Linked DNA regions of Homo sapiens: region 2 is linked to region 1. Evidence: fine-mapped QTL for protein levels in blood plasma. A gene starts in region 1. The other region holds a variant in brackets. All regions are shown on one strand. Distances are from middle to middle. Region 1 holds the start of RAB44 (RAB44, member RAS oncogene family). Region 2 overlaps RAB44 (RAB44, member RAS oncogene family).

What was found. PIP is the posterior inclusion probability: the model's chance that the variant is causal. The UK Biobank Pharma Proteomics Project read protein levels with antibody pairs (Olink). The fine-mapping took linkage between variants from a reference panel, not from the people measured, so its PIPs are less certain.
Region 2: its variant is fine-mapped to the plasma level of the RAB44 protein (UK Biobank, PIP above 0.99).

Annotation. Positions count from the first base shown.
Region 1 is chr6:36,696,486-36,699,396 of GRCh38, reverse strand. RAB44 (RAB44, member RAS oncogene family) reads right to left here and starts at 1,571. Exons shown (of 14, transcript NM_001257357.2): 1 at 1,482-1,571.
Region 2 is chr6:36,725,951-36,728,861 of GRCh38, reverse strand. It overlaps RAB44 (RAB44, member RAS oncogene family), which reads right to left. Exons shown (of 14, transcript NM_001257357.2): 11 at 1,171-1,285; 12 at 61-162. Among named protein-coding and RNA genes, the nearest start is that of RAB44, 30 kb to the right of the region's middle. RefSeq lists an enhancer at 2,064-2,203. The variant T/GATCACTTGCGGTCAGGAGT (reference allele first, on the strand shown) is at 1,839.

The DNA of each region.
Region 1 (2,911 bases):
GCAGCCTGCCGGGCTCCCACAGGTGTAGGATGTTAGAATCCTGGAAGAAATTCCCTGCAGCCACATCCTAGGACATGTGGCATTCCTGACTTTCCTTTCTGGGAGTTCCTAGCCAAGCTACACCTCCACAGCCCATTTCCAGCAGTCCCCTGGCATTTTTTAAGAAAATAGCACCTTCCAGACACCTCGCCTGCCCCACCTCAGCATCTGCCCTCTCTGCCAGTCAATCCTTCTCTCCCAGGAGGGGTACTCAGCCACCCGCTCCTTGCCTGACAGGTGGCCTGGGGCAGGAAGGCAGCAGGTGCCCTCCAGCCATCGCCACCTCAAAATCAGTCACTTGTCACCATCAGGTGGGATGGTGCACTCACCCCTCGTGCCTTCACATTCAGATCCCTGACAGCACCCCCACGGCCTGACAGCACAACCTAAAAACAGTCTGTGTCCCTTCTAGGCCAGGCCTGGTCCCTCAGAGACAGCAAGGACATCCTTCAGTCAATCCACAAATGTACACGTGCAAACGTGCACGCACACACACCCTCCTTGGCCATCATCCTCACCCTCCAATCCCTCACCATCAGCCTCTCAGTCAGACACAGCACCCCTCACGGCCATTCCATCATTCCATTCTGCATGTGCAAATGCCGTCGCCCAGCACACACATCCCTCCGAGTCAGCTGGCAGGGCCACCCTGCCAGCGCCCTTCTCCTCCACCACTTTCCCCTTAGTGCATCCTCATGCCTCACGTCCTTAAGAGTGGGGGACCCCTTCATGGCTAGGACACACATATAGCCCCTCAGCATGACCACCTCTCCCCACATCCCTCACCTAAGAAATCGCATAAAACTTGAAGCCAAACATGAGAGCAAATGAATCCCACTCCCAAGCACCTGCGGGAATCCACTACCACCGTGGTATTCTGTTAGGCAGCAGGCACCACAGGCTGCCCACCAGGAAGTGGAAGCCAGAGAAGAAGAGTGGGGTGGGGCAGCAGGCAGCAGCAGATTACAACCTGGCATGGGCCCTGCCTGGGGCCTCCGGGTATCCATCACTGTCTCACCAAAGGGCGCTCAGAACTGGGTCTGCTCTCCACTTGGCTGGCTTCAATAGCTGTAAATAATAGCCACAGTCGCTAAACCCCAGTGGTCCAAGTCAGTGGGCCTGAGAGACCACCTAGTGTCTTGTTCCAGTCTACTTATCCTCACTCCTCCTCTCCTAACTAACAGAGAAACTGAGGCTCTGAGAAACCAGGTGACTTGCCCTAGGTCACACAGCCATTTACGGGTAGTGATGTACCCCAGCCTCTTGCCCAAGTGCTTTCCCATCCCCTCCCTTAGACCATGCAGAGAGCTCCAAATGCAGGAGAAAAGAGGGCTCTGCCTTTTGCACCCTTGACATAGAAGTTAAACAGGGACCCCAGCTCCCTCCCCCATCCTCATCCTTCCAAAGAAAAAGAAGCATTGCAACCTTGGGATGGCTCCTACCTCTCAAAGGCTCCCAGTGGAACACACAGCCCTGGGCTCTGGGACCTGGTGGTAGGGTGACTGCTGCCCTGCGGAGCCCACGAGCTCTAGAACTGTTAACAGTCTTGTCTTGCTTAATCTCCCTTTCCGTTCCCCAGCGAGCCAATCTCCTGTGCTCATCTACAGGACTTCCTGTGGAAGCGACCACTGGCGGCCCTTTCACAATTTTGCCTGGCACCCCCAGGCATCCCTGCCCTGATTGGTGTCTTGAAGTGGAGAATGCTGGAGCTGGCAGGGAGGCCCTCCTAAGCAGAGGCTCCAAAGAGTGAGATGGACTGCTCAAGATCACCCAGCCCTTAGTGGCACAGCCAGGACTGGGCCTCAGTCTCTGGTTGCCAAGGCAATGCCTTATCCCAGACAGCAGCAGGTTGATGGGCACAGCCGTGGCTGAAGCTAAGTGTATGGGATGCCCCGGGAGAACTGCCCATCCTGCCTCACTTCAGGCCCTCACTCTCAGACAGTGTCTTTGAGCCTCAGGGGAGGCTTTATATCTAAACCACCTTTTAGGGAACAATCTAGTCTGATACCAAAATACACTGTAGAGCTACAACCATCAGAACAGTGTGGAATTGGAGCATGACTATAGACAGATGAATCAGTGGAACAGAATAATGAAATAGACTCAAATATTTGTGGGACAGGAATAGACTCAAATATTTGTGGGGATTTAGTGTATCATAAAGGCACCACTTCAAATCATTGGAGAAGAGATGGTTTATTCAATAAACTATGTTGGGAGAATGGGCTAGGTATCTGCAAAAAACAAAGAGCTCTAACTCTAAAAGCATTCCAGATGGATAAAAGACATAAGCATTTTAAAAATCAAAATCACATAATTATATGTTGTTTGGGATTTACTTCAAAATTATTGAAGAGTGTGGAGAATAGGTAGGACATAGATGAAACAAGACTGGCTCTGGACCTGTTCTGATCCCTGCTGGAGTTAATGAGGGTACTGCAGGCTCATTATGTTCTTCTGCTTTTCTGTATGTTTGAACAAATGCCATAAGAAATCATGGCATAGTTCATTTGCCATGGTTGCAGAAGAAGGAAGGAAAGAAAAGGAAGGAAGGAGGGAAGGAAGGGAGGGAGGGAGGGAGGGAGGAAGGAAGGAAGAAGGAAGAGAGAGAAAGAGAAAGAGAAAGAAGAGAGAGAAAGAAAGAGAGAGAAAGAGAAGAAAGAAAAAAGAAAGAAAGAAGAAAGAAACTAAGAAAGAAAGAAAGAAAGAGAAAGAAAGAAAGAAAGAAAGAAAGAAAGAAAGAAAGAAAGAAAGAAAGAAAGAAAGAAAGAAAAAAAGAGGAAGGAAGGAAGGAAAGATAGATCTGTCATGGGATAGGCTGGGTGTGGTGGCTCATGCCTGTAATCCCAGCACTCTGAGAGGCTGAGGCAGG
Region 2 (2,911 bases), 29 kb before region 1:
CTGCCAGGGAGGTGTCTGCCCAGTCCACGCACAGAGACGGGCTGATGCCCAAGTGCTTACCTGGGCCAGTTGCTGCCCAGCTTCCACGGACACTTGCCGTTCCTCCTCACAGTCCATCTTGTTTCCCAGGAGAAGGATGACCACCCCATCCGACCCTGCATCCTGCACACAGAACATGTTCTGTCAGCCACACCCACTGTGTGCCAGGCTCCTGGCACATTTGCCTTCCTAGAAGCTGAACTGTGTCCCCCGCATGTTCCCCCTCCCAGGCCACATCCACTCCATAACCTTCTCACCTGGACCCTTTCCCCCATCCTTCCTCTCTGCTGATAAACATCTCACTTATTTTCCAAGGCCAACCTTAAGAACACCTCCCCCAGGAAGCCTTCCTGGGTTGTTCCTGCCCATGTCCTCTCTTCCTGCCTGTTCTGAACAGTCCAGCACTTGATTATACATTTTCCCAATTGTCTCATGAATAATAATAATAGTTTCTGATTAGTGAGTGATTGCTATACACCAGGTGCTGTGCTGAAAGCAATTCTATCAATTAATTGTCACAACTCCCCTATGAGAGAATTCCAGAAATTGAAGTTCAGAGAACTCAATTCACTTGTCCAAAGTCACAGAGTTCGGGTGGGTGGGATTCAAATGTAGGTCCTGTCAGACCCCAGTGCTCAGCTCCCCTCTTCACACATTACCTTATCCTGCTTCTTTTGCTAAACTAGAAACTTCCAGAGAGAAGGCAACATGGCTAACTTCACACCCCTCTGCTGTGCTAGTACACACTGCAGAATTTCAGTATATATGCTTTGAGGAAGTAAGCAGGGGAAAAACTAGAGATGTGTGAACAGAGGAATTACCACATGGAATGGCACAAGAACTACATTAGCCTCAAGTGTAAGAAGAAGACATTACAAACAGCTGCCATATGTAGGAAGAGAATGTTCACAGGATAAAGGAAGTAGTTTGGTTTGAAGTCTGTACTATGTGGTTGTGGTTTCTTTGTACTACTGCATTCCCAGCTCATCCAACCACATGCCCTCAGTGGGTGGTGTCACCCATATGTCTGTCATGTCATTTGTAATCCTGGGAGAAAAGAGGGAGTGGGCAGGATATAAGATCCCTCTTGACTGGAGGGACTGGGGCCAACCCCAGCAGCCATCTGCTCACCTGGAGACAGTCTAGCCAGTAGCGCACGTGGGCAAAGCTCTCCTGGGAGGTGATGTCGTACATGAGCACCACCCCGTCAGCCTTGCGGAGCAGCTGTCGCGTCATACTGTGGTACCTGCCCAGAGAGTCTGCATGAGGCCACACCAGGCATCCAGACCCCAGGCCCTGGCCTCTGCAAAGTGGGAGAAGTAACCTATCCTACTTCTAATTGCTTCCCACAGAGCATGTCCGTATGCTTTTCTTCGTACAGTGTAGTTATTGTTGACTAGGTAACAGTTCTCATGGCTCAAATTTCAAAAGGTCTCAAGGAGAACTCAATGAAAAGTCTCCTTCCTTCTGCCCCATCCTGGAGCCACCCAGTCCCCCTCCCCAGAGGCAACCAGGGTTATCAGTTTCTTAAATATTTTTCCAGAGGCATTTTACGTATATACATATATATACACACACATATATACACCCATACACATACATCTTTCCCCCTCTATTTTATACAAATACAGTGTAAAACATTCATCATACTCATTAATATTCAGTGTTCTGCATTTTGTTTTTTTCCAGTTAACAGGATGTCTTGGAGAAATTTCCCTATCGGGCTGGGCACGGTGGCTCACGCCTGTAATCCCAGCACTTTGGGAGGCTGAGGCAGGAGGATCACTTGCGGTCAGGAG[T/GATCACTTGCGGTCAGGAGT]TCCAGATCGGCCTGGCCAACATGGTGAAACCCTGTGTCTACTAAAAATACAAAAATTAGCTGGATGTGGTTGTATGTGTCTGTAGTCCCAGCTCCTCAGGAGGCTGAGGCACAAGAATCACTTAAGCCCTGGAGGTGGAGATTGCAGTGAGCTGAGATCACACCACCACACTCCAGCCTGGGTGACAGAGCAAGACTCTGTCTCAAAAAAAAAAAAAAAATCCCTATTAGTACATAAAGAGAGTCCTCAGTCTTTGTGTGGCTTTATGGTGTTATACTGGGTAGATTGACCCTCCTTTATTTAACTGGTCCCCTATTGATGGACATTTAGGTTGTTTCCTATGTTTCATAACACAAGTGAGAATACTATGACTGGTCCTGGTCCCTTTGTTATTATAGTCATATGAGTCTATTTATAGAATGAATTTCTAGAAGTGGAACTGCAGAATCAAATAAGATATGCCTTTTAAGTTTTTATCACTGCCAGGTGCCGTGGCTCATGCCTGTAATCCCAGCACTTTGGGAGGCCGAGGCAGGTAGATCACGAGGTCAGGAGTTCGAGACCAGCCTGGCCAATATGATGAAACCCCATCTCTACTAAAAATACAAAAATTAGCTGGATGTGGTGGTGGGCACCTGTAGTCCCAGCTACTCAGAGGCTGAAGCAGGAGAATCGCTTGAACCCGGTAAGTGGAGGTTGCAGTGAGCCCAGATCACGCCACTGTACTCCAGCCTGAGCAATACAGCGAGACTCCATCTCAAGAAGAAAAAAAAATTTTTGATCACTACTGCCTAGGTTGAAAGTAGAAGACCAGCATTTTTAGAAGGACAGGTGATTGGGTGGCTGTCCCCTAATGACCATGTTGGGAAGCCCTAATATATGCCCTGCCAGGCTGAGGGACCTCTGGCTCTGCTGCCCTCTCTCCCCTGCCTTGGGCTTGACTCATCTCTCCTTCCCTGACCTCCTGAATCCTTGGGGGGCAGTTGCCTCCTGCCTGTGTTATTAGGGCTGCTCCCTGTCCCTCTGCACCCCTACGCTCAGCCTAGGTTCCTGACACACTGATATACAGTGC